Linked DNA regions of Homo sapiens. The protein of the gene in region 1 purifies or fractionates together with the protein of each later gene. This does not show direct contact. Each region holds a gene or a part of one and is shown on either strand. Other genes may lie near its edges. The genes, in order: ZC3HC1, POF1B, SERPINB5 and SRBD1.

Region 1 (6,865 bases):
TTGAGACAATTTTCCTAGTTGAGCCTTGAAATGACAGTGCCCTGACCAACCTTAATTGCAGTCTGTGAGAGACCCTGAGCCAGAGGACTCAGCTAAGCCATGCCTGGATTCCTGATCCACAGAAATTATGAAATAAAAACTGTTTGTTGTTTTAAGATCACTAAGTTTTGGGGCAATTTGCTATGCAGCAATAGGTAGCTAATACACAAAGGAAAATCTAGAAAGAGACATTATAGTAGTGTAGTCTCTAATAATCTAAAAAACATTAGATTATAATCCTGGATCTGCCATTTGCTAACAGGTTCATCTTGGGCAAGTCATATAACCTGCCCCAAACTGTTTCCTCTTCTGTAAAACAAGTATAATAATAATGCTTATTTTCATAGGTTTAAGGTCAAGATCGAATGTGATAATATATACAAAAACATACTATATACAAGTATTAGTTATTATTTCTTCTTTTCTCAGGCTCTTAGTTTTTTCTTCTGTAAAAAGAAAAGGTTAGATAACCTCAACTGTCCCTCTGAGTGATAACATATTAGGATGCTGACTTTCCTATATAATTTCTTACCAAGGTTTTATTCTTAAGTTTAAAGCATCACAGTAAGTGGTGTAATACCTTGGAGGAATTCTAGAAGCAGGCAGAAAGTGCAATTCACATGAACTAAAAAAGGATATAGAAAATGTTTCCACTCTGCTAAAGAAGGCTTCTTTGCTTGTAGATTCCAATGAAGGTTGTTCCGCTTGGGGTGATCCATTAACTGACTGGGATGTGGCAGACGTGTCCTTCCTAATATAAAGTGGCAAAACTGTTGGTAAACCTTTCACAGTACCCTCTGCTTAAATGTTATCTAGCTTCTCTACACATCGTATCATAAATCACACCAACGCTGGATTTTAAGCTTCCTAAAAATCATTTTACTCATGTCATTCCTCAGCTTATTATTTTCAATGGTTTTATAATACTTACTAAATAAAATCCAAATTTTTCAGTCTGGCATTCAAAACTCTTTACAGTTTACCCATATCTAAACTTCAATTTCTACCTCTACAGGGCTCCACTAATCCTAGCAAACTATTCTCCTCACTCACTCACTGTTCTCCACAAGTATTTGGCATAACTTTAGTAGACAGAAAATAAGACTCAAGACTTCAAGTATGCATTATACAATTTGAATCTCTTCAGAAATTCGACTTTTTTTTTTTTTGAGATGGAGTCTCGCTCTGTTGCCCAGGCTGGAGTGCAACGGTGCGATCTCGGCTCACTGCAACCTCCACCTCCCAGGTTCAAGCAATTCTCCTGCCTCGGCCTCCCCAGTAGCTGGGATTACAGGCGCGTACCACCAGGCGTGGGCCCGGCTAATTTTTTGTATCTTTAGGACAGACGGGGTTTCACCATGTTGGTCAGGCTGGTCTGTAACTCCTGACTTTGTGATTGGCCCACCTCAGCCTCCCAAAGTGCTGGGATTACAGGCGTGAGCCACAGCGCCTGGCAGAAATTCGACTCTTAACAGCAGAAAAAACAATTTTGATATTTCTACCTGGAGGGACCTTTCATACCCACTCCTTCCAAAAAAAAAAGAACCAATTAGAAAATTCGAATCAAAGATCTTCGGGAGATTTCATGAAAAAAAAATCAGGGAGAAAAAAACTCAGCAAAGCAATTCTCTCATTTTCAGTGGAAGGCATTTCAACAGTGCCTGGGGAATTGCTGAAAGACAAGCATTTATTTATTTATTTAGAGACGGAGTCTCACTCTGTCACTCAGGCTGGAGTGCAGTGACGCGATCTCGGCTCACTGCAACCTCCGCCTCCCAGGTTCAACCAATTCTCCTGCCTCAGCCTCCCGAGTAGCTGGGACTACAGGCGCGGGCCACCACGCCCGGCTAATTTTTTGTATTTTTAGTAGAGATGGGGTTTCACCGTGTTAGCCAGGATGGTCTTGATCTCCTGACCTCGTGATCTGCCCGCTTCAGCCTCCTCAAAGTGCTGGGATTATAGGCGTGAGCCACCGCGCCCGGCGACAGGCATTATTTTAATAAAAATAGGATTACATCAACGATTATAGCTCAAAAGAAATAAACTTACTCTAAGACTCTCAGAGATTCATAGAGAGCCTCAAGCGGGTGTGGTTCTAGGCCAAAAAAAATTCACAGCATCCATAAACTTGGATGGGTAAAAATGACATTTATTTCTCTCTAAATGACAAGATTTAGCATTTTCTTCAATTATGAATGAAGGTAAAAACACCATAGTAGTATTAGCAGTACCTGCTAATTTGTCACCAATGGAAATAATGTTCCCACATTATGGTGGTTGCATGTCTTCAAATACCTTTGTGCTCATCACTACTTCAAAATTATGGTTGACAACACATACTACTAGATATTATGGACTCTTTAATAAAAAGCATTGTTACTGCGTAACTTTTTCCTTTTACCATCTTGATAACTACATTCCAATCTAACTGGTTTCCTTTATAATCCTATGTAATTTACTTTAAGCATTTAAAAATATTCTGAGAGTTAATAAGCTTCTCCAGAGAGCCAAAGGGGTCCACGGCACAAAAAAAGGTTAAGAATCCCCAATTAAGAGAAGTCAAGTGAACTCATTCAGTTAACGGTCCTCTTTACTTCCAAAAATAATGTCCGATGACAAAATTTCGGCTGCGGTTGGGAATCTGGTACACCCCGAGGGGAAGATCAAAGCCGATCAAACATAGTAACCAGAGTTTCTTTCAGATTCTAAGAAGCCATCCCCACTGCCCGAGTCGCCGACCGAGGGGAACCTCCCCCAACCCGCCACCCCTTCCCCAAGCCTTCTTCAATCTTCCAACGCCGGACCCAGGGTTAACTCGTGAACTCACGCGTCCACGCCTCCCTCTTCCGGGGCAATCCCCTCATCTATCAGCTGCCGGATTTTCTGGGGGGTCCCTTCTGGGGAGCGAACTACTGCACCCCAATTCTTTTCAACCCCTACGGCAAACGCTTGTCCCTCACAGGGCGCCGCCATCTTGGTCCGCTGCCGAGTTGCTTCCCCGAGAGTTTGAAGGCTCCGGAACTTCCGTCCTGGGAGGTTAATATCCGCCTCTTGAGGCAGCCTGGCTGGGAAAGTCTAACCGCGGGGCCCACGCCTTTTCTCATCATTTTAGAACCTTAGAGCGAGCTTAAGGAGGGCTGTACTGTTTAGGACAATCTTGATTAATCGTTTCCTTTATCAACTAGCATATTTAGGTTGATAAGAGATTTTTAGAACGCTGTCAGTCCAAATTCAGCAGGGATGAGGGGCTCAACTTAATTTTCAAGTAATATTAACTAATACGGCCGGGCGCCGTGGCTCATGCCTGTAATCCCAGCGGTTTGGGAGGCCGAGGTGGGCGGATCGCCTGAGGTCAGGAGTTCGAGACCAGCCTGGCCAACATGGTGAAACCCCATCTCTACCAAAAATACAAAAATTAGCTGGACTTGCTGGCGGGCGCCTGTAATCCCAGCTACTAGGGAGGCTGAGGTAGGAGAATCGCTTGAACCCGGGAGGCGGAGGTTGCAGTGAGCCGAGATTGCGCCACTGCACTCCAGCCTGGGCGACAAGAGCAAAACTCCGACTCAAAAAAAATAAAAATAAAAATAAATTAACTCATACGACCCTCCTAAGTTGCACCTTTCTACAAGCGAGGAAATGGTGACCCTCATTGGAGAGCAAATAATTTAGAATCCTTGTTGGAAACCGTGTTATGGATGGATTTAGAAGTCTGTGGCATTTGACACTATTGATACTCCTTCCTTAGTCCAACAAATATTTATTGAAAACGTCCTATTTATTTTTTTTGAGATGGAGTTTCGCTCTTGTTGCTCAGGCTGCAGTGCAATGGCGCGATCTCGGCTCACTGCAACCTCTGCCTCCCGGGTTCAAGCGATTCTCCTACGTCAGCCTTCCGAGCAGCTGGGATTACAGGCATTCGCCAACACGCCCAGCAATTTTTTTTTTTTTTTTTTGTATTTTTAGTAGGGACGGGATTTCACCATGTTGGTCAGGCTAGCCTTGAACTCCTGACCTCAGGTGATCCGCCCGCCTCGGCCTCCCAAAGTGTTGGGATTACAGGCATGAGCCACCGCGCCCGGCCGAAAGCATCCTATTGATAGTCTCTAGGCACTAGCAATGACAGTCGTGAGCAAAGAAGCTGTAGATCTTGGTGGAGTTAGATGTCAAATTTTCCTATAGTTTTAAAATTATGATTACAAGTGCTCCAAGGATGTACCAAGGTTATAATAGGAGAATCTAATTTAGTTTGCACATTCTCCTGAGAAAAATCAGGTACTGGAGCTGAGACGGATGAGATTGAAGGGAAGAAATCTGTACAGAATCTTCCAACACCCCAGGTTGGAAGACTGATGTGACTAAACAATGGGCAAAGAGGAAAGTGGGATCACCTCCTACCCTTCCAGCACCCTACCTGTGGGCTCCTAACTCTATCAGTGTTCCCAGCAGCAGGACCTGCAACCTATTGATCCAATTACCTTTCTGCTCTTCCTAACTCCACCACCACCCTTGTTTCTTCTTTTCTTAGCCAGCTTAAATTCATTACTAATTGTTATCATCATCCCTTTGCAAAATTTGAACATGGGTTGAGACTTAGTTAATATGAAGGAAACATTGTTGATTTCACTATATGTAATAATGGCATTGTAGTTATGGTTCTTAAAAGCCCTTCTTTATTAGAAATGCATCTTGAAGTGTTTATAGGTGAATTGATATGATGTTTGGAATTTGCTTTGAAGTTATCCAGGAAAACATGTGGAGGAATAGATGAAAAAATATTGCAAAATTTTAAACTGTCGGACTTGGATGATAGAATTGTGGGATTCATTATATTATTCTTTCTGCTATTAAGTATGTTTGACAATATCATAATAAAAAGCAAAATAAATAAGCTAAAAAATACATGTTCTTGAATACCCTTTGAATTTCCTTGAACCTCTCTTGCTTAATAGTACTTACTTGACAAAACCTCAATCACAGTTGAAGTAAGTTCTCTATTATTGCTTCTGTACCCATACAACTAAATATGGCTAAAGAGAAATGACAAACTTGTCTCTTTATATTCTTGACTTCAAGTGGGACCTTAATTCTGCCCAGTAATTATACTACCTTTATCTAGTCCACTTCTCATCCCACTTTTCATAGATGACTTATTTTTATTTTTTATTTTTTTAAATTTATTTTTTATTTTTATTTTGATTTTTTTGCAGACGGAGTCTCCCTCTGCTGCCTGCTGGAGTGCAGTGGCACAATCTCGGCTCATTGCAACCTCTGCCTCCTGGGTTCAAGCGATTCTCCTTCCTCAGCCTCCTGAGTAGCTAGGATTACAGGCACCTGCCACCATGCTTGGCTAATTTGTCATATTTTTAGTAGAGACGGGGTTTTACCATGTTGGCCAGGCTGGTCTTGAATTCCTGACCTCAGGTGATCCGCCCACCTTGGCCTCCCAAAGTGCTGGGATTACAGGCGTGAGCCACCATGCCTGGCCACCTGGCTAATTTTTATATTTTTAGTAGAGACAGGGTTTCACCACATTCACCAGGCTGGTCTCGAACTCCTGACCTCAAGTGATCTGCCCACCTCGTCCTCCCAAAGTGTTAGGATTACAGGTGTGAGCCACTGCACCCACCTTCATAGATGACTATTATATACCTCTCTCCTCAAACACCTTCAATACTTCCACTTATCCATCCTCCCTTTCTGCTAATGACACACTCCTAGGAAAATACTGACTGTACAGTTAGCCATGGTAACAACCAGCAATCAGAGCCAGTTTTAAGTTCAATTGACCCATGATTACTCATCACAGTGAATGTGTTTTTGTAAACCCAATGAATGACAACTTCTTGATTCAGCCAATCACAAAGACTCACTTCAATAAGCACTCCTCTGAGTGCCAGCCACTCAACAATAGTTTCACCCAAGTTATCACTTCTACAAATGATGCTAACACACACCTTTGAAAGTTTGCCAATCTCTGAACTCCCCACTTTCTCAAAGTCTGATAGATTAGTAGTCTGGTCTGCTTGAAGACTGTGCCTCACCTGCATGGCTCTTACTGTTTATAGTAAGCAAGAAATTTGGCTTTGTGGTTTTTTTTTTTTTTTTTTTTTGAGACGGAGCCTTCCTCTGTCGCCCAGGCTGGAGTGCAGTGGCGCATCTCGGCTCACTGTAAGCTCCGCCTCCCGGGTTCACCCCATTCTGTGGCCTCAGCCTCCTGAGTAGCTGGGACTACAGGCACCCGCCACCACGCATGGCTAATTTTTTGTATTTTTTTAGTAGAGACGGGGTTTCACTGTGTTAGCCAGGATGGTCTCAATCTCCTGACCTCGTGATTTGCCTGCCTCAGCCTCCCAAAGTGTTGGGATTACAGGCATGAGCCACTGTGCCCGGCCGGCTTTGTGTTTTTATTTCGCATGATGAATGGTGTTCTCATCATCCTCTAACCGTACTTTACCTTCCCTCCTGTTACTATTGATCAGTGGTTCTCAAATGAGTGTGATATTGCCTGCCACAGGACACTTGGCAATGTCAGGAGACATTTTTGGTTGGAGTGGTGATAGAGGCCAGGAATGTTGCTAAGCATTTTACAACATCCAGAACAGCCTCGCCACAACAAAAAATTATCTCACCCAATATGTGCACAGGTTGAGAAGCCCTGCTGTAATCTATGTGCCTATCTAAGGCCAAACTTACACATTGGATCTAATTCCCCTTGCCTACTCAAGAACATTGTCCACCAATTCTCCCCTCCACTGCACATTTCCATTAGCAGCAAGATATTACTTCTCCCATCTTAAAAACATGCAAAACAGGCCAGGTGCACTGG
Region 2 (7,028 bases), on another chromosome or scaffold:
GATTATTTACATGACAACTAGTAACTGAGCAAGAATTTGGGACAGCCATAGGAGTAAAGATCAGGAAGAGGGTAATCCTTAGAGACTACTTACAATTTCCTAGGAATTCTCTCTGCTCAGACATCCAGAGAATTCATCTAGAGTTTTTTCAGTCATTTATTTATTGCACAAACATGTATTAAGGTCTACAACAGCTTTTCTCATTGACATGTTAGTACATTAAATAAATGCATGAACCTAGATTTTTAGTATTTCTACAATTCTGGTCACCCAACAAGACAAATAATTGTGTCCCATATGTACTTTATATCTAAAATAGATAAGATTATCTGTTTTTCTGAGAGGGCTTTCAGCCATTAGAAATACCCAAAGCCACTCAATTCTCATATGAACAAATTTTTCCATCATATTTAATTCTGTCTTGATTATATCTCATAACTCCAATGTGCCAGTAATTGTGCATATGAAAAGCTATCAATGTAGATTAACACCAATAAAAGCATCAGTTTACCTGCTGCTGGTGATTATTTGCTCTCACTGATGCCAAGAGTTCTTCGTACTCTTTTAATTGAGTGTCTTTGAATGATAAATCTTTCTCAAGTCTCATCTTGTCATTTTCCAGTGACTAGAAGCATAAATTATTTATTATGATTCAGAATTGCAAAAACTTAACAGTCACATAATACAAAGACTTGCTTACCTTGGAAGATTTAAATAAGCACTTGTTTCATTTGTACTTGCTTAATAAAGCAGAATTCTTAAAAGTTAAGAAAATACGGGATAGGAAATGATTGAAACTTCTAAAACCTTCATTGAAAGAGACATTTTGATGGACTAACTATACATGAAATGAAGCACAACCCTCTGAAATGTTTTAATGTTTTCCTCCAATCTACAAAGAGTCCTCGTTAATCCCAGCGAGTGGTAAATTTTTAAATTAGAGTCTAAATATGTTCATCATAACCCAGAAACAACAAAACTACTCCAAAGTCCTCAAGGCATTATTCAATGTGTGGAAAGCATTCTGAATGTATCTAGCTGATGGCACCAAGAACACCAATTAAAATAGAAAATGGAAAAAAATTAATTTTTTGGAGAAAAATGTTTTCAAGTTATTATATTTGAATGGAAATTCAGAGTATGCTTTATAATTATGAAAAAGGGGGAATTTACCTCCAATGAGTCAGATTATTTTAACTTTGCAGATGACTCTCTGGCTTTAAGCATTAAATTGCCTTAGTGGTAAACTAAATGATAAGTGCACATCCAACATTCTTTCATTTATACTTTGGATACCTCTTTTCTCCTCTCTCAATGCCAATTAACTGTTTGAAGAAAATAATTTAGCTTTGTCTGAATAAGCATAATATTGTGCTATATTAAATTTTAAAAACATATACTGGACATCTTTATTTCTGTATTAGGAAGCTAGTAACTAGAAAGGCTTTGGAAAAAATCAAAATAAATCTTACTGTCATATCATTTTGAAGATGTCCAAGCTCCTCCCGTATGTTGCTAAATGTGGACAGCACTAGTCGGAGTGACTTATCAGACATACCCCTCATCTGCAGGAAGAAAGGATTAATGGTTTAGTTTTATTAACATTTGAAAATAGGCAATATAAGTGAAAGTTTTTTTTTTCCTACTAGCAAACTTATTAATAATTTTACTTTGATATGGCAAATTAGAAAGGTGATATAAGGCATTTTGTCAATAGTGTGTTTAAGTAATCCAAATAATATTCCTGAAGATAGCATAGCTAGTATTTATAACAAATATTTATTATTTTTTCCATGATAAAGTATCATCTTTGTCACAAAGTAGAATTCTATCAGCAAAATTTAATTTTTACATTATTCTTTATTTAAAAGATTAGAAGAGATGAGACAGTCAATAATCAAATAATAAAATGAATCTCCCTAAGTGTATTGCCAACTGCCTGAATTTTGCCTGAGGTGAGAAGAATATAATTATAATTAAGTTTAACTTTAAAGTATAGAGCTATCTAAATATTTTTGGTTTTTTTTGTTTTGTTTTTGTTTTTTTACCAGAGTCTCACTCTGTCGCCTAGGCTGGAGTGTAGTGGCATGATCTCAGTTCACTGCAATCTCTGCCCCCTGGGTTCAAGCAATTCTTCCACCTCAGCCTCCCAAGTAGCTGGGACTACAGGTATGCACCAACACACCTGGTGAATTTTTGTATTTTGAGTAGAGAACGGATTTCACTGTGTTGGCCAGGCTGGTCTCGAACTCCTGACCTCAAGTGATCCACCAGCCTTGGCCTCCTAAAGTGCTGGGATTACAGGTGTGAGCCACTGCACCTGGCTTATCTCAAATTTTAAAGAGAGGGGAAACTCTTTTACTAGATTATTCTTATTTCTTTAAAGAAAAATGGTTTAAAAAACAGACAACTTCAGCTTCTGGGAAGATGGAGTAAAAATACTTTCCACAACCAATCAGACGTTGTTTAAGGTTTAACTTTGTAACTTCAGCCTCTGATTGGTCACTTTCTGCAACCAATCCGACTGATAACGGGCCACTACTTCATTTACATAGAGTGTACACCAAGTTACCAATGGGAAACCTCTAGAGGACATTTAAACCACATAAAATTATATAACTGTGCACTTGAGCCAATTGCTCAGCCCACTCCCACCCTGTGGAGTGTGCTTTCATTTTCAATAAATCTCTACTTTTGTTGCTTCACAAAAAAAAAAAAGAAAGAAAAAAGAAAAAAAATACTTTTCCCTAGCCTTCCTGTTAATTGCAGCTAAAAACCCTGGACATTATATATAAAACAAATATAAAAAGACCCAAATTGGTGAAAAGAGAAATGATTGGTTAGGAATCTTGGGACCTGAGAAATGACACAGCAGTGAGTTCCTGGATTTTCTTTTTGCTTCATATATTAGATCAGTGTTGGGCAAGCTGGTGATCTAGTTACATCAATGGACAACAAAAGTCCTGAGAAAAGCCTTCTCTCTCTAACCAAAGGACCATGAAAGGGTCAGCCTAGCAGGACAGAAAACTTTTAGATAGTAACCACTCTATCTTAGCCAAACACCACAGAAGAAATTGCAACTCTACTTCCACACGGACCACCAAAGGCCAAGAAGAGAGCTTAGACTGCCCCCTTGTCAGGCTCTAGGGAGGTACACAACACCATTCACTGGGATGGTGTCAGAAAAGACAGAGTGAAGAATGGTGCTTTCATTCCTACTGGCCAAAAATGAAATTCCATGCACTGTGATGTCAGTTGAGACTGTGAAGGGAGCTTGGGCTTTCACCCTATCGCATCAAGAGAAGCTGAGTGGGGGAACCTCAACTTCCACCACCAGCTGGCAGTAATAGGTAGTGCACACACTTTCTCTGATATTTGAATATTTGAATGAGACCCAGAGAGTCACAACATAAAAATGGCCAGGTCTCCCATCCAAGTACTAGCCAGGCTCAATCCTGCTTAGCTTCTGAGATCAAACAAGATCAGACATGTTCAGGGTCAATTGAAAATCACTCATAATTCCAAGAACAACAAAAATCTCAACCAATAAGAAAAAACACTTAATTGATGACAACATCAAGATAATAGAAATGTTAGAATTATCTGATAAAGTGTATAAAACAACCATCATAAATACTTCAACAAGAAGTTGCAAGGAGACTGTAAAAACACATTGTCTCAATGACAAAATAGAAAGTCTCAGCAAATAAATAGAAGACATAAAGAATACCTAAATGGAAATTTTAGAACTGAAAAGGACAGTAACAAGACAAAGAAACAAAAACCAAACCAAAACAACAAAGCTCTCAAGGAGTGGGCTAAAAAGCAGAATGGAGAGAACAGAGGAAAGAATTAATGAACTTAAAGATAGAATAAAATAAAGTATATAATCTGAATATCAGAAACAAATAGATTAGAAAAAATTAAACAGAGCTTAAGGGTTTGTGGGTGTACACCACATATCTAGCTTTCATGTTCAGAGTCCTGGAAGGAAAGGAGAAAGAGGATGGAGCTGAAAAAATATTCAAAAAAATTATGGCTGAGAAGTTTCCCAAATTAGTAAAACCTGGTAACATACATATTCAAGAAGCTGAGCATATCCCAAACAATATAAACCCAAAGAAATCCATTACCAGACAAATCAGAGTCAAACTTCTTAAAACTAAAGACAAACTAAAAATTTTCAAAGCAGCAAGAAAAACATTAATTATTGGGAATAACAATTCAAATGACAACAGATTTCTCATTACAAATCATGAAGCCCAGAAGGAACTAGGATACTATTTTTTAAGTACTAAAAGAAAATAATTGTCAACTGTAAATTCTATATGCAGTGAAATTATCCTTTAGGAATGGAGGGAAATTCACATTTTCAGATGAGGGAAAATGAAAATAATTTGTTACTAGCAGACCTACCCTTAAAGAATAGCTAAAAGAAGTTGTCTAAAGAGAAGAAAATCATAAAAGAAAGAATTTGGAATATTAAGAAGGAAGATATAGCATTGTAAGCAAAAATATGGTAAATACAATAAGTTTTCCTTCTTTTCTAGAGTTTTCTTTTTTTATTATACTTTAAGTTCTGGGATACATGTGCAGAACGTGCAGGTTTGTTACATAGGTATACACGTGCCATGGTGGTTTCCTGCACCCATCAACCTGTCATCTATCTACATTAGGTATTTCTCCTAATGCTATCCCTCCCCTAGCCCCCCACCCCCTGACAGGCCCCAGTGTGTGATGTTCCCATGTGTTCTCACTGTTCAACTCCCACTTATGAGTGAGAACATGAGGTGTGTGGTTTTCTGTTTCTGTGTCAGTTTGCTGCGAATGATGGTTTCCAGCTTCATCCATGTCCCTGCAAAGGACATGAACTCATCCTTTTTAATGGCTGCATAGTATTCCATGGTGCGTATGTCCCACATTATCTAGTCTATCATTGATGGGCAATTTGGGTTGGTTCCAAGTCTTTGCTATTGTGAATAGTGCTGCAATAAACATATGTGTGCATGTGTATTTATAGTAGAATGATTTATAATCTTTGGGTATATACCCAGTAATGGGATTGCTGAGTCAAATGGTATTTCTAGTTCTAGATCCTTGAGGAAGCGCCACACTGGTTGAACTAATTTACACTCCCACCAATAATCTAAAAGCGTTCCTATTTCTCCACATCCACTCCAGCATCTGTTTTTTCCTGACTTTTTGATGATCGCCATTCTAACTCACGTGAGATGGTATCTCATTGTGGTTTTGATTTGCATTTCTCTAATGACCAGTGATGATGAGCATTTTTTCATGTTTGTTGGCTGCATTAATGTCTTATTTTGAGAAATGTCTGTTCATACCCTTTGGCCACTTTTTGATGGGGTTGTTTGTTTGATTCTTGTAAATTTGTTTAAATTCTTTGTAGATTCTGGGTATTAGCCCTTTGTCAGATGGATAGATTGCAAACATTTTCTCCCATTCTGTAGGGTGCCTGTTCACTCTGATAATAGTTTCTTTTGCTGTGCAGAAGCTCTTTAGTTTAATTAGATCCCATTTGTCAATTTTTGCTTTTGTTGCTATTGCTTTTGGTGTTTTAGTCATGAAGTCTTCCCCATGCCTATGTCCTGAATGGTATTGCCTAGGTTTTCTTCTAGAGTTTTTATGGTTTTAGGTCTTACCTTTAAGTCTTTAATCCATCTTGAGTTAATTTTTGTATAAAGTGTAAGGAAGGGGTCCAGTTTCAGTTTTCAGCATATGGCTAGCCAGTTTTCCCAGCATTATTTATTAAACAGGGAATCTTTTCCCCATTGCTTGTTTTTGTAAGGTTTGTCAAAGATCCAATAGTTGTAAATGTGTGGCATTATTTCTGAGGCCTCTGTTCTGTTCCATTGGTCTATCTCTCTGTTTTGGTACCGGTACCATGCTGTTTTTGTTACTGAAGCCTTGTAGTATAGTTTGAAGTCAGGTAGCATGATGCCTCCAGCTTTGTTCTTTTGGCTTAGGATTGTCTTGGATATATGGGCTCTTTTTTTGGTTCCATATGTAATTTAAAGTATTTTTTCTAATTCTGTGAAGAAAGTCAATGGTAGCTTGATGGGGTTAGCACTGAATCTATAAATTATTTTCAGCTGTATGGCCATTTTCAAGATATCGATTCTTCCTATCCATAACAATGGAATGTTTTTCCATTTGTTTGTGTCCTCTCTTATTTCCTTGAACAGTGGTTTGTAGCTCTCCTTGAAGAAGTCCTTCACATCCCTTATAAGTTATATTCCTAGGTATTTTATTCTCTTTGTAGCAATTGTGAATGTGAGTTCACTCAAGATTTGGCCCTCTGTTTGTCTATTATTGATGTATAGGAATGTTTGTGACTTTTGCACATTGATTTTGTATCTTGAGACTTTGCTGAAGTTGCTTATCAGCTTAAGGAGATTTTGGGTTGAGACGATGGGGTTTTCTAAATATACAATCATGTCGTCTGCAAACAGAGACAATTTGACTTCCTCTCTTGCTATTTGAATCCCCTTTATTTCTTTCACTTGCCTTGTTGCCCTGGCCAGAACTTCCAATACTATGTTGAATAGGAGTAGTGAGAGAGGGCATCCTTGTCTTGTGCCGGTTTTCAAAGACAATGCTTCCAGCTTTTGTCCATTCAGTATGATATTGGCTGTTGGTTTGTCGTAAATAGCTCTTATTATTTTGAGATACATCCCATCAATACCTAGTTTATTGAGAGTTTTTAGCATGAAGCGGTGTTGAATTTTATCAAAGGCCTTTTCTGCCTTTATTGAGATAGTCATGTGGTTTTTGTCATTGATTCTGTTTATGTAATGGATTATGTTTATTGATTTGCATATGTTGAATCAGCCTTGCATTCCAGCGATGAAGCTGACTTGATCATGGTGGATAAGCTTTTTGATATGCTGCTGGATTCAGTTTGCTGTATTTTATTGAGGATTTTTGCATCGACGTTCATCAGGGATATTGGCCTGAAATTTTCCTTTTTTGTTCTGTCTCTGCCAGATTTTGGTATCAGGATGATG
Region 3 (7,028 bases), on another chromosome or scaffold:
GACTTCCAGTGATGTCAATGAGTAAGCCATACTTTGTTTTTTCACAGCCAACAAGTGCCTGAAAGCATCTGGTCTTGTTGTTTGTTTGTTTGTTTGTTTTTCTTGAGGTGGAGTTTCACTCTTGTTGCCCAAGCTGGAGTGCAGTGGTGCAGTCTCGGCTGACTGCAACCTCTGTCTCCCAGGGTCTGATTCTCCTGCCTCAGCCTCCCATGTAGCTGAGATTACAGGCACCCACAACCATGCCCAGCTAATTTTTGTATTTTTAGTAGAGACAGGGTTTCACCATGTTGGCCAGGCTGGTCTCCAACTCCTGACCTCAGGTGATCTGCCCTCCTCGGCTTCCCAAAGTCATGGGATTACAGGCATGAGCCACCACGCCCAGCCATCAAAGCATCTTATAAATTATAAATTAAAATCCCAGAACAATATACTTCGCTATCAACCGATAAGGAAATGAGATGTTAGAGAAGTTAATCAATCAGGAACAAGATTCCTAGATGTCAAGGTTTCATGATAATCCAAAGTCCTCTGATAACAGAGTTTGGTCTTTTCCTTTTCTGCTAAAGTTCTCAGATGTTTGTAGCTATTTTTCAGCTGGTGACTTAGCTTTCCTCGCTGGGTTACAAATTCTATAAAGTTTCACTCAGCTCAGATCCTTGAAGACATTATGGAAAAGAGGAGGGGGGGCCTCTGGATTCTGGCTCTTTTTGTACCACTTACCTTCCAGCTGTTCATCTCAGGAAAGGCACTTTGCCGGCCGTGCCCTCAGGTTCCTCATTGGAATGGATTTATGCCCCACTCTGTCCCTATCATTTTTCACATCTATAATTGGGCTCCTTTTACTGCTACATGCTGCCCCACATACCTTGTTGACTCTGAAAGGACATTCTTTTGTTTCTGATTCAGAAAATTTCTTCATCCACTTGCCAACAAAGTAGGCAGCATTAACCACAAGGATTTTGGTCTGGTCGTTCACACTGTTGTCAGCTAAAATGTTCTCAAAGTGGCCTGCAACAATTTTAGGAAAACACAAGTAGCAGAATTATTCTTCCAAACTACATCTGAAATTCACATGCATATTCACTGAGTATTTACCACTTCATGGAGTCACACCATGTAAGGCCTGATGGTTCCAACCATCAAATTTCAGAAGGACTCCTTTCTCTCCTTCTACCTTGACACAACCAGATCTACCAAAGAGGTCAGCAGAGGAGAATGAAGGAGCAGGGAAGAAAGGAAGAGAAATAAGAAGGAAAGCACAGCTACCATTCTGAATGCCTATTCTGTGTCAGGCAGTATACAAGCTATTTGATACACATTATATATATTTCTTCCTACTTTATGAATGAGGAAGCTGAGACTCAGCGATGATAAGTCACTTTCAAGGATGATATATAAACAAGGGTGGATTCAGGATTCAAAGCCAGCTCTTTCTGACTCCAAAGCCTGTGCTCTTGAATGAAAATACGTAATCACTTTCTTTATGGCAGAATTTCACATATATTATCTCAGTCTTTTCACAATGGTCCTATAAGGCAAAGATCATTATCTCCATTTTACAGTGCAGTAAACTGAGGCTCAGAGAGGCCAAGGAGCTGTTCTAGTTTCCTCAGCTGGAAAACATGTCTGAAGGTTGTCCCCTTCACCCCACAGCTCTCCATCCACTCTCTCAATTGCACTCCTTGCGGGCAGGCTGATTGCCTCAAGGTCAACTGTAATCACCATAGGGCTCAATCACAATTGCAGTTATTATAAAGCTAAATCCCAATAGCCAAAACAATTCAAGGGGAGTGATCCCTTAATAAAAAGAACTCCTCACATTTGAATAGCCCACAGGTTTTTTATAAAGGGTTTTCATTCACCTAATCTCCAATTTTCAGACCAATGTTCAGGGCCCACTTCACAGGCCTGTGACCCCTGTGTGAAGGACCCTGCACTTGGTTTAATGTTCAGCTGTCACTACCTCAAAATTCTTAATAAATGTTTAAACAAGAAGCCCAGCATTTTTACTTTTGCCCTGGACCATGCAAATTATGTAACTGGTCCTGCCAATGCTATATAATATGTTAAATATATATTAGTGTTATTGAAGAAACCTGAAGAACAAAGAAGTGTGGGAGCCGGTAAACGACAGAGCTTCAACTTCAACCCTGAGCCTCCCATTTCAAACTCAGAAGTCTTTTCATGGCTGGATGCGGTGGCTGACACCTGTAATCCCAGCACTTTGGGAGGCTGAGGCGGGTGGATCACCTGAGGTCAGGAGTTTGAGACCAGCCTGGCCAACATGGTGAAACCCCATCTCTACTAAAAATACAAAGATTAGCTGGGCGTAGTGGCACGCACCTGTAGCCCCAGCTACTTGGGAGGCTGAGACAGGAGAATCCCTTGAACCTGGGAGGCGGAGGTTACAGTAAGCCAAGATCGTGCCGCTGCACTCCAGCCTGGGCGACAGAGCAACATTCTATCTCAAAAAAAAAATGAAAGAAAGAATGGCATTCACAGCAACCTAGATGGAGCTGAAGACCATTATTCTTTTTTTTTTTTTTTTTTTTTTTTGGGAGACGCAGTTTCTCTCTTCTCACCCAGGCTGGAGTGCAATGGCGCGATCTCAGCTCATTGCAACCTCCGCCTCCCAGGTTCAAGCGATTATCCTGCCTCAGCCTCCCAAGTAGCTGGGACTACAGGTGCGTGACACCATGCCCAGCTGATTTTTGTATTTTTAGTAGAGACGGGGTTTCACCATGTTGGCCAGACTGGTCCTGAGCTCCTGACCTCAGGTGATCCAGCTGCCTTGGCCTCCCAAAGTGCTGGGATTATGGCATGAGCCACCATGCCTGGTCTGAAGACCATTATTCTAAGTGAAGTAACTTAGGAATGGAAAACCAAACATTGTATGTTCTCACTTATAAGTGGGAGCTAAGCTATGAGGATGCAAAGGCATAATAATGACATAATGGACTTTGTGGGGTGGGGGAAGAGTGGAAGGAGGTGAGAGATAGAAGACTACACATTGCACACAGTGTACACTGCTTGGGTGATGGGTACACCAAAATCTCAGAAGTAACCACTAAAGAGCTTATCCATGTAACCAAAAACCACCTGTTCCCCAAAACCTATTGAAATAAAACACAATATAATACAATTTTAAAAATTAAATCAGGTAACATGTGCCTCATTTTACAGTTCAGTAAATTGAAGCTTTGTGTCCAAATATCAGTTAGTAAGTACCAGTGTCTGGATTTGAACCTAGGTGCTGAATGACTCCAGAGACCCTGTTCTTCCCATGTTCTCATCCTGCAGTTACTGTCCTGTTAGAACTTCCTCAGTCAGTACAGAGACAGAGTAGCTGGGGGCGCCAGTCATTCTCGCAGGAAGTGGGTCTCCCTTGCCCCGGAAGTGTATCCCTCCCTAGACAGCAGCGACTGCCTAGGCTTCATTCTTTCATGACTAGATTCGGCCCGGCCTCCCAACGGGTCCCTCCAGATGCAATTATAAATATATCCACTGGGGAGGGGGACAAAGTCACTGATTTGCCCTCAAAATCATCATAACCCTAATTCTTTTCCAGCAAGGAAGACGACTCACCGGCAATTTTAAGGGAGGGACGAGGAGTCCGACGAGGGAGACGCCTGGGGGAAGCACTGAGCCGGAGAAAGAACCTAGGAGCTTCTTGGACCCCGGGGCTATCAGAGGAACGACCAGCATGGGGAGCTGCGGCACCGAGGACAAGCTGACACTACGGTTTTGTTTGGTTTGGTTTTCTTTTTTTAAGACAGAGTCTCACTCTGTCGCCCAGGCTGGAGTGCAGTGGCGCGATCTCTGCTCACTGCAAGCTCCGCCTCCCGGGTTCACGCCATTCTCCTGTCTCAGCCTCCCGAGTAGCTGGGACTACAGGCGCCCGCCACCACGCCCGGCTAATTTTTTGTATTTTTAGTAGAGACAGGGTTTCACCGTGTTAGCCAGGATGGTCTCGATCTCCTGACCTCGTGATCCGCCCGCCTTGGCCTCCCAAAGTGCTGGGATTACAGGCGTGAGCCACCGCGTCCAGCCGGTTTTTCTTTTACATATGTTGCCTATGTCCCTTTTTCCTTAACAAATTTGTAAAATTTGTCAGCTGAAAGGGGCCTCGGGGATCATGAAGTTATAATCCAGTCCCTCTATTTCCAGACTGAAAAATGGCCTCATGATTGGCCCAAAGTCATACTTTGTTAGAGGCGCAGCTAGGATTCCACTAGGGCCTGTGACAGCTCGTCAGAGAGCAAGACAAAGTAAACTAACACTGAAGCATCAACAGTTTCTACCAAGTGATGAGATGATACAAGAATTGCCCAGAAATCCAAGTTGTTTACAGGCTTGAAGGGAAAGAATTTAGCTTGTGTAGTAAAAATATCCAGAGAATCCTCCAGATGTTTTTTTTATCCTTGGAGCAAACATTTATGAGATGGAAGGCCCTGTTTACTTGGTGATTGATAGCAGAACAATTAAAGGGTACTTGCCATCTGTGAGATCCTTAATTGAGTTGTTGATCTGACCTTTCGTTTCTTCCAATTTATCTTTGAAGTCAACAGTTTCCAATTCCTTTGCATACGGTCTCTTCGTAGAGCTGATGAACTCCTGAAAAACATGCAGTTCATAAAATCAGAGTCTGTAGTCAAGCTATTGCATTGTTATTCTCTTCTAACAAAAGGATTATTAAATATCAACTGCTATATGTACACTTTCAAAATTGGTAACACTATATGAATTGAAACCTCATGTAGAAGTCAGTGAATTTCTTTGTATTGAATGTTTCATTTTTTTCAATTATAAGACAATTTCAATTATTAAATGCATCTATCAATTTAATATCAGCTTTGGGGAAAACACTATGTTAAATATGCCCAATTCTCTTATGGGTTGTAATTTCAGAAACATGAAAATTTTGTATGTCTACAGATACATATATATTAGAATATAGGAAATGTATAGAAAACAGAATTATGAGCAGAAAACTCTTGTCTTTGCTGAACTAAATATCCTGTAGACCCTTGCTACTCAAACTGTGGTCCAAGGTGGTGTACAGCATCACCTGAGACCTTGTTAGAAATAAAGAATCTCAGACCCCACCCCAGACATACTGAATCAGAATGCATTTTAACAAAATTTCCAGGTGTGCCATCTGCAAATTAAGGTTGGAAACACAATGCAGGAGAGAACATAACAGGAGTTCTTATTCTAATGCTTATTTAAAATGTGCAACCCTAAACCCCATTCCCACCTTGACAATCAGAACTACCTGGGTTTAATCAGAACTACCTGGGTTCAATCAGAACTACCTGGGTGTTAAAAGGGCCTGAAGAACTTGCCCTTTTAACACCCAGATAGTTCTTATGCAAGAGATCCTCCACAGAGCACACTTGTTTGGACCTTTAACTAGTAAATTTGCAGATGCTGTGCACCTAGCAGGAGCAATGGAAAGCAGTCTTTTAAAAAATCTTTTGTAATGAGCCGAGATCATGCCGCTGCACCCCAGCCTGGGCAACAGAGAAAGACTCCATCTCCAAGGAAAAAAACAAAACAAAACTTTACAACTCCTAGTCTGGTTAAGATCATTCCAGATGTTGCATGGAAGTTCAGTGAAACTAAATATAACTTGATTCAGTGTCATGTCAGTTCACTTCCAAGCACAGGGCTTCTTGAATTTCTTCAGAGCAGCTTCAGCCTTAGCCAATTAACTTAGCTTCAGTTAATTGCAAATCAACCTTGGGACTCACTGTCACCATTGACTGACAGAACCAATCTCACCTGAAAACATTAGAAAGCCTCAGCCAGATGAAGGAGGGCCTCCATTGTCCTCACTGCCAGCAATAAAAATGTGTTAATTGTCTCTTTAATGATCATTTAGGGAGCTTCTAGAAATGTTGTATGCTCAGGCTTCAACTCACATCTCAGTTTTTTTTTTTAAATTCTTCAGATGATTGTTGGAAGAAAAATGGTTGTGTGTATGTATCTTTAAGCAACAAAAAATATACTCACAATATCTAGTAACCCATGTCCTCAAAAGATCTTAACCACAAAAATACCTACTGCAGAAAGTTGCAAAATCATGGTAAAATATTTAAAAGCTGGTAGTCTAGCTTTTCGATTTGGAAACCTTGAAATTCTGACCATCCAAACAGGAACTAAATCAACTCTGTGTTACTGAAGTACAGAGGGAAACTTCATGTAGTCTAGAATATTGTCTGTGTGTTTCAAATACAGATTTTTAAATATTACAACAATGGGTACCGTAGTGGTGTTTGTATGATTCCTTAGAGCAATGGCTAAACTTATATAACCAGAGCTGCCTGTGGAGATCCCCATCTGACCAGCCCAGCCAACAAAACTAATTTGTGACTGATGAAAATTGTGAATTCATAGTTATTATTTTTCTTACTGATTTTGAGAAACATCAGAAGAATGTGTGCATAAAAAATGAGGTGGAGAGCTTAAAACATTGTCCCAGGCCATATGCCCTGCTCTTTAAGGAGAAAGAAGTTTAAATCATTAGCTGTCTTACACTCTGTAAGACAGCTCATTGTCTATGGAGCTACATTTATTAGAGAGTTAATTACTCTGTTCTCCATTCTCTCAGAGGAAGGTAAAAGAAAGGGTAAGATTTATTTGAGAGAGAAAAGGAAAGCCCATAAGCTTCTCTGTATTTTGAGTTAGAAGATGTGACTGCAATTGATTCCCACTATACTCAACCTCTCCACTAGGATTTATTTATTTAAAGCCTCAAATCACAAGTGAACATCCTAGAAAGGAATTTCACTGAAAAAAAGTTGTAGGTCTAACAGCATGAAAATGCCACTCCTTGTAAAAAGTTAAGTCTTGCTACTTGCTTTAAACAACTTACTGTAGAAAGATTCAGAGATTTGTCTACGTAGAGCCGCTTGATTAGTTTCAGTGAGTAAAAGGAACTAAGTTTGTTTACATCCGATGTTACTGTTTGAAATCCAAAGGGTACATCTTTGACATTTTCAAAATGAAGAACCTGTTAAGAGAAA
Region 4 (7,028 bases), on another chromosome or scaffold:
TTCCACACAATCTCTTGCAACAAAGGGAAAACAGCTAATAAAAAAGGTTTTGTTTGCCTTTTCTCCCTGTTTAGCAAACTTTACTAAGATATTACACATGGCTGCTCAACTCCCCTACACTCACCACTCCCGAAAGAAACTGGACAACAACCACCTTTGGAGCAGTTTAATTTTCCCAAAAATTGTCTGTAGCTGGTCACTTCTTCAAATTCTTATAGTTCATGGTATCCAAAACATATCTGCAAAATAACTTTAACAAAAACTAGTTTCTGGTCGCAATCACACATTTGCAGTTTGGGAGAAAGGGCTGAAAAGGAGTAGGTTGCTTCTGTCAAAAGACCTGGTGATCCCCAACCCCGGATCAGGAAATAGAAACAAAATACATTCATGTATAATGTCTGTTAAAACATTATAGGAAGCCATTGTTTTGGATGAAGCTCCTGCAGTAGGCCCCGATAGACCCTATGTTCCATAGACTAAAAATCAAAATGAACTCACCCTGGCTAAAATTTTAGTCACCAAACTAAAACAAAGTTGTTATCTGACTTTCCAAGAAATCTAAAGAATGATAACAGCCAATTTATCAAACAGGCCAGTTTCAATCTTCAATAGGCATGATAATAAAGTTCCCTCTACTTTAATCCTTATACAAAAAGACTGAAGTAACTTCATTTTATCTGTTATTTTTCTATTTTTCTGTCTCCCTCTCTCCACTTTACAAGGAAAGCAATCCACTTTCTGTTGTTTCTGCTTTCATTAGTCCTATCTATAAAACCAACCCCCCTGCTTAATTCATTAGAACACTTATCCTATTTTATGAAATGAAGTGTTGCTTGATTCTAGAATCATAAACCCAACAGAGATCTTTAAACTAAACTTGTAATTTTGTCCTTTTGACAAGCCTAAAACTAAATCAAGTGTTGACTATATAGTTCTGCCTCTCCAAACAAGACAGTGATGTTCCTGAAAAAAATCTGTAGTTTTCAGAGTTGAGAAATACACCTTGAACGGAAAAAAACAGAGGACCAAGTTATCATTGTGGCCAAGGCCATGGGGAATAGTACACAAAATAAAGGATATATAAATGACATTTCCACATGTTCAACTAGTAATACTTAATAATTTCCATACAATTAAGTTTCACAACCATTCCTTGCTAACTAGATAACTATTCAGGATTTCCCCCAAAGAATTTGGACATACATTTTGTGGCAGATAATATGCATGTTACAGGTATTTTGTTGAGTCTGATCCTTATCCAAATGTTCAGGACTTTTCTGATTTTCTGGCTTGGTATTACTTGACTCTCATTCTTGTCAGTTCCCTCTTTTTCCAACATCTACCCCTGTTCTCAACCATGTTTACAAGCAGGAATACAGTTTTAAGACAAAATTACTTTCTCTCTGACAAAGTTTCTCCTGTTTACGGAGAAATTTTAAAAGTATAGGAAAGGAAATCCACATATACCACAATAATTGTCTGTAAAATTCAAGTTAAAATTAAGGAAGGATAATTGCAACTGGTTAAATAAAAAGAACCCAAACATGTAAAATTCACATGTAATAGTTTCCCAGGCAATTTCCCTAAACCCACCAGGAAAATGCTGAGCTTAATAATTGCCATCAGATTGCTCAGCAAAGGTGGCAGCGTCCCAAAAACCACTTCCCAATTCACAGGCAAGGAGTGCCCAGATTCTCAGAGAATAGGCATTCAGCTGTCAACATTCACTTCAAAAAAGGAAGAGGAAAAAAAAATTGCTTGGAATTAAAAGGAAAATCTAGCATGCCTATAATTTTCAAAATATTTTCTAAGAGGGCAAAAGGCCATAAAATAGTTCTTGTGCCTTTAAATGAGACAACTTGCTTCCAAGTCACTATTCCCACAACACAACAAAGGACATTACTGCTACTAGCTTACAAATAAAACTTTTCTTTCTTTACTTTTCCTTTGTCACTCACCTTCTGGCAGCTGGGCACCTATCGCTCATCATACACTTGTCCCTCCTCATTCTATTCAGCAAGTAATCTTGCCTTTCTCTTGGAATGTATTTTCCAAAAGGCTTTGTTTAGCTGCTATTTTAGTGACATTACAGAACGCATTAGTGAACCCAGATATTCATTCCTAACCAAACATTAAAAGTCTAGGTTAACGGATTGCAGAACAAATTTTCTTCTCTCAAAGCTCTGAAATCACCTTCAGTTATACCTATTAGAGAAATGATGCAAACTAGAAACTAAATTCTACAAATACTTTGAGTCAATTCTCAGTAATTTCTCAGTAAGTTTTAACTTTAAGATGGTTTTTCTGAACAAACAAAACTGTTTTCTGTCTATTTTACTCCTATCCATAAAGGATTTTTTGATGGTTAACCCATTGCATCTACTAATCCATCATGATAATGTAGTAAACAAATCTAAAGTGCCTAGTACAGAGCCGAGCTCATAACAAGTCATCTATAAATAAATGGTAAGTATTATGATCCCTTGTCAATTAAAGATCTGTAAACCAACACCTTAAGGTATTATGGTAAAAGAAACCTAAGTATTTGTCAACAGTGGCTAATCATCACCTAGATTTATAAATTTACATTCTAAAGCTGAACCCTGAAGTAGACATCTTCTGGCCCAGAAATGCCCTCCTTTTCTCAGAGAACACCCCCCCACAACCCTAACACACACACACACACACACACCCACAACCCTAACACACACACCCACACCCACAACCCTCACACACACACACACACACACACACACACAGCCCTGGCAGCCATATTTCTAAAATACAGTGAGGCCTCAGCACCCCAGGCACTGGACCAGAGATGGATACCTGACCCAAATTCAGCCAATCAGACTTTCTTCTTAAAATTTGGAACTGGAGGCTGAGTGCGGTGGCTTACACCTGTAATCCCTGCACTTTGGGAGAAAGAGGTGGGCGGATCACCAGGTCAGAAGACGGAGACCATTCTGGCTAACATGGTGAAACCGTGTCTCTACTAAAAATACAAAAAATTAGCCAGGCGTGGTGGCACATGCCTGTGGTTCCAGCTACTCAGGAGGCTGAGGCAGGAGAATCGCTTGAACCTGGGAGGCAGAGGTTGCAGTGAGCCAAGATCGCGCCACTGTACTTCAGCCTGGGCGACAGAGTGAGACTCTGTCTCACAAAAAAAAAAAAAAATGTGGAACTGCAATACAGAAGCAACTGGTTAGTCTACGTAACTAATAAAACTAATGGCAAATAAACTAGGGAGCTGTCATTTTCTATCCTCTGTAAAGAAGCAAGAAAATCTTATCTGCTGAGAAAATAATAACTCAAACAGAGAAGCAGCAGAAATTGGTGATTATAAGACACCAGATAGAGAGAAAACTAACAGCACCTTCTCTGAGTCCTCACAGTTTCCAATTTCTGGTTCAAGTCCTTTGGGAGACTTGACCACATTCTGTCCCTTTTGTTCTTTGAAAGGTCCCTATGTCCTTGGTGAAAAACTCTTTTCTACTTAAGCTCATTATAAAGAGCTTATATACTTGTAACCTAGAGACAAAAGGTTAAGGCAGGGCCATTTTCTACATCTCTTTCCCTGTAACAGAGGGTGGGAAGCAGAGTCATAGAATAAGTAGCTCTTTACTACGAATAACTTATTACCAAGTCTCAAAGACCAGAGACTTCACAGTCTAAAACTTCTTAACTTCCTCCTGCACACTGCCAACTACCAGAGGTGGATCTATGTCAACAATGGAAATAACCTTAAAAAGCGTTAGAAAAGGAAAAGAGAAGGGAAGTGGTACATGTCCACCTGCCTCTGTAGGCCTGGTCTGGAACCAAGAACTTTAAGAAAGGCTTCAGGGTGAATCTGATGCAGGTAGTCCATGGACCACACTTTAAAACACTGCCTTCTAGGTATAAATGAACAAAGAAAAAGAAGGCATAGAAAGGAGCCTAATTATACTCTGTTTTTCCAAGATACCTTGGACTATTCATTCAGGAACAAGGTAAGAGGAAAAGCTGTAAAGCAACATTCTATTCCTTAGTGCACCACAGAGAAGAAAAATCATGATTAAAAATTACCAGTGACAGGCCAGGCGTGGTGGCTCATGCCTGTAATCCCAGCACTTTGGGAGGCCGAGGCGGGCAGATCACGAGGCAGGCAGATCGAGACCATCCTGGCTAACACGGTGAAACCCTGTCTCTACTAAAAATACGAAAAATTAGCCGGGCGTGGTGGCAGGTGCCTGTAGTCCCAGCTACTCGGGAGGCTGAGGCAGGAGAATGGCATGAACCCGGGAGGTGGAGCTGACAGTGAGCACCACTGCATTCTAGCCTGGGCGACAGAGCAAGACACCGTCTCAAAAAAAAAAAAAAATTACGTTTTACTAAGAGGTAATAGAAAAGGCAGCATGGGTACAAAGACATTTGTGACACACAGGCAGTCCCAGATTGAGAAGTGGAATCAGGATCCAGCAGAGGCCCTCAGCTCTACAGCCACAATCATAGCAAGGGAAAGAGTACACAATAGAATCACATGGGACAGATAACAGGGAGGGAAGTCACCCCCACCTACCCTGAGAGGCACTACCATAATTAAGTCTAAAATGGTCCCAGAATGTGCTGGGACAGACAAAAGCTCACTAGCTACTCTTCGGGTCTCCAATACTGTCCCCAAAGCCAGCCAAAAAAACTGGGAGAAATCTGATTTCCCCTGTAGTAAGACATATAATTCTGGCATCTCAAGTTGGAATTCTTACAGAATTTCCTTTCAAAAATCGCTAGGCCTTGTTGTAGTACATTACAACATTATACTAAGGGTTAAATAGATGTATGAACAGCCAGTGACCTAATCACCTACACTGCTTTTATAGGAAAATACAGTCCAAGTTCAAAGCAAAAACTTAACAATGAACCTGTGGGGGCCCAACCAGTTGGTACAATCTGTCTATATAGTTTATGTTCACTAAAACACCATAGCAAAGGCCAAGAGAGGCCACACATCTTAGCTGAAGAACTGATGATTAGCTACAACACAAAACAGTGTACCCAAGAAAGTTACAAGTAGGAAAGCCTCCAGAAATCACTGGCAAAACTGAAGAGAGAATTGAAAACCCCCAGCCCTTCCCTTAGACAGTACAACCCCTATGCTAGTCAAAAAGAAAGCACTCAAAACAACTAAAGTGACAGAAAAAGGCTGCACATACCTGTACCATGTCCCAATTCATTTCCACCTCCTCTTTAGTACTATTGGCATTTGCTGGAAACTTGACAGGCTGCCCCTGAGGATATGTCTCAGTCTTGATTTTCTTTAAAGCGGACTGACCAAATGTAAAGTCATCGTCATTCTCTTCCTTCTTGCATGTACCTCCCCACACAGTGCTTGTGGATGGTGTCTCTGAACTATTACTCTCACCCTCTAAGTTGCTGGCTTTGCTGGTTTCTTCTTCAACTTTCAGCTTTTTAGTCCTTCGAACTGTATGTGGCTGCGCTGCACATTTCTGTTTTGTCTTGGCTGTTTTCAGAGTCTGTACAGTATCCAATTTATTTTTTCTGTCTTCTAAAGCAGTATCAGCAATAGCCACAGAGCTATTCTATCAAACCACAAAGAGAACATATGAGAATTAGAAGATAAAAAGCAATTTCCTGGGACTATTACTCACAAATAAAAGTGAACAAATTATTGATACACACAATAACTTGGAAGAATCTCAAGTAAATTATGTTGAGTGGGAAAAAAAGCCAATCTCAAAGTTACATACTATATGAATACATTTATATAACATTCCTGAAGAGATTAGAGGTTGGCAAGGGTCAGAGATGATGGGGGGAGGTGGGTGTGGCTATAAAAGGGCAACACTAGGCATCTTTGTGGTGATGGAACTTTTCTGTCATGGTAGATACACAAACCTACATGTGCGATAAAATTGCACAGAACCAAGTACATACATATACATACACATGAATGAATACAAGTAAAACTGGAGAAATCTAAATAAGATCAGTGGATTTTATCAATGTATCTCGGTTGTGACATCTTACTATAGATTTGCAAGATGCTACCATTCGGGAAAAAATGGATAAAGAGTACATGGAATTCTTCTATTATTTCTTCCCATTGCATGTCAACTATTTAGAAATAAGCAGTTTAATTTTTAAAAATGAGTAAAGGATAGGTCTACACATGCCAGAAAACCAAGATTAAAACTTGCTATCAAAGTCAACCACTTAGCAGACAGAAAAGTAACACTCATTCACTCATACAACTCAACAGGCTACACATGCCACCAATTTCTGCTGAAGAGTAGAGGATAGAACACAGAATGATAGCAGGCTAATGTCAGGCATTTTTCTTTAACAAGAGTCCGCACAGCAGCCCACACAGGTGTCTAGGGACTACACTCTGCACTGCCACTGCCCCCCAATCCAAGTGACAGCTCAAGTGTGAAGAAATGAGACTTGGCACCCATCTCGGCACTGGGTATAGTGTAAATAAGATAAAGACCCTACCCCTAAGCTGGTCTGTTCTCCGTTACCTAAATGATGCAGATGGCACAAACATGAACAATTCCCAAACTAAATTTTAGTCAAAATTCTATCTTCTCTTTTATCAAGTATTTTTTCCAGAATCACTATTAAAAATATTAAGAACTACAATAAAGAGCACCTCCACCTGAATGCCAACCTGCCACCACCACCATCTGAACTTGAAAATAATGAACATTAGAGAGCCCTCTGAGTATTAAATTTTTTGCCCAAAATAGAATGGATCAGAGCAGAGACATAAAGATAAAATAACTCCCAGGCCTAAAAGAGTTGATAACCTAATCAAATGAATTGACATATCTAAAGAAAGTGTCAATCATAAAGGGTGTTGTCAGCCACTGTCTTAGCTTCAAGCTATTAAAACATTCAATTGTGATTGTGACAAGCATAATGCCTAGACCACAGTGGACATTCAATAAACTCAAACGAATGGATTTATCTCATCATCCTATTCTGAGTCCATGCTCATCAAGTAAATTTCTGATTACTACTTAATTCCC

Evidence for each region.
Region 2: the proteins of ZC3HC1 (region 1) and POF1B purify together in Homo sapiens (co-immunoprecipitation; 2 studies listed by BioGRID and IntAct, with this or other methods). This does not show direct contact.
Region 3: the proteins of ZC3HC1 (region 1) and SERPINB5 purify together in Homo sapiens (co-immunoprecipitation; 2 studies listed by BioGRID and IntAct, with this or other methods). This does not show direct contact.
Region 4: the proteins of ZC3HC1 (region 1) and SRBD1 purify together in Homo sapiens (affinity purification with mass spectrometry; 2 studies listed by BioGRID and IntAct, with this or other methods). This does not show direct contact.

The regions. Positions count from the first base shown.
Region 1 is NC_000007.14:130,048,355-130,055,219, forward strand, and holds the start of ZC3HC1 (zinc finger C3HC-type protein 1), read right to left. Parts: upstream 3,021-6,865; 5' UTR 3,013-3,020; coding exon 2,867-3,012; intron 2,135-2,866; coding exon of another isoform or gene 2,089-2,134; intron 791-2,088; coding exon 679-790; coding exon of another isoform or gene 620-678; intron 1-619. UniProt on the Homo sapiens protein: Required for proper positioning of a substantial amount of TPR at the nuclear basket (NB) through interaction with TPR.
Region 2 is NC_000023.11:85,306,652-85,313,679, forward strand, and holds part of POF1B (protein POF1B), read right to left. Parts: intron 1,566-7,028; coding exon 1,473-1,565; intron 626-1,472; coding exon 512-625; intron 1-511. UniProt on the Homo sapiens protein: Plays a key role in the organization of epithelial monolayers by regulating the actin cytoskeleton. May be involved in ovary development.
Region 3 is NC_000018.10:63,486,933-63,493,960, reverse strand, and holds part of SERPINB5 (serpin B5), read right to left. Parts: intron 7,016-7,028; coding exon 6,878-7,015; intron 4,615-6,877; coding exon 4,497-4,614; intron 3,348-4,496; exon of another isoform or gene 3,229-3,347; intron 1,009-3,228; coding exon 866-1,008; intron 1-865. UniProt on the Homo sapiens protein: Tumor suppressor. It blocks the growth, invasion, and metastatic properties of mammary tumors.
Region 4 is NC_000002.12:45,594,260-45,601,287, forward strand, and holds part of SRBD1 (S1 RNA-binding domain-containing protein 1), read right to left. Parts: intron 5,577-7,028; coding exon 5,190-5,576; intron 1-5,189.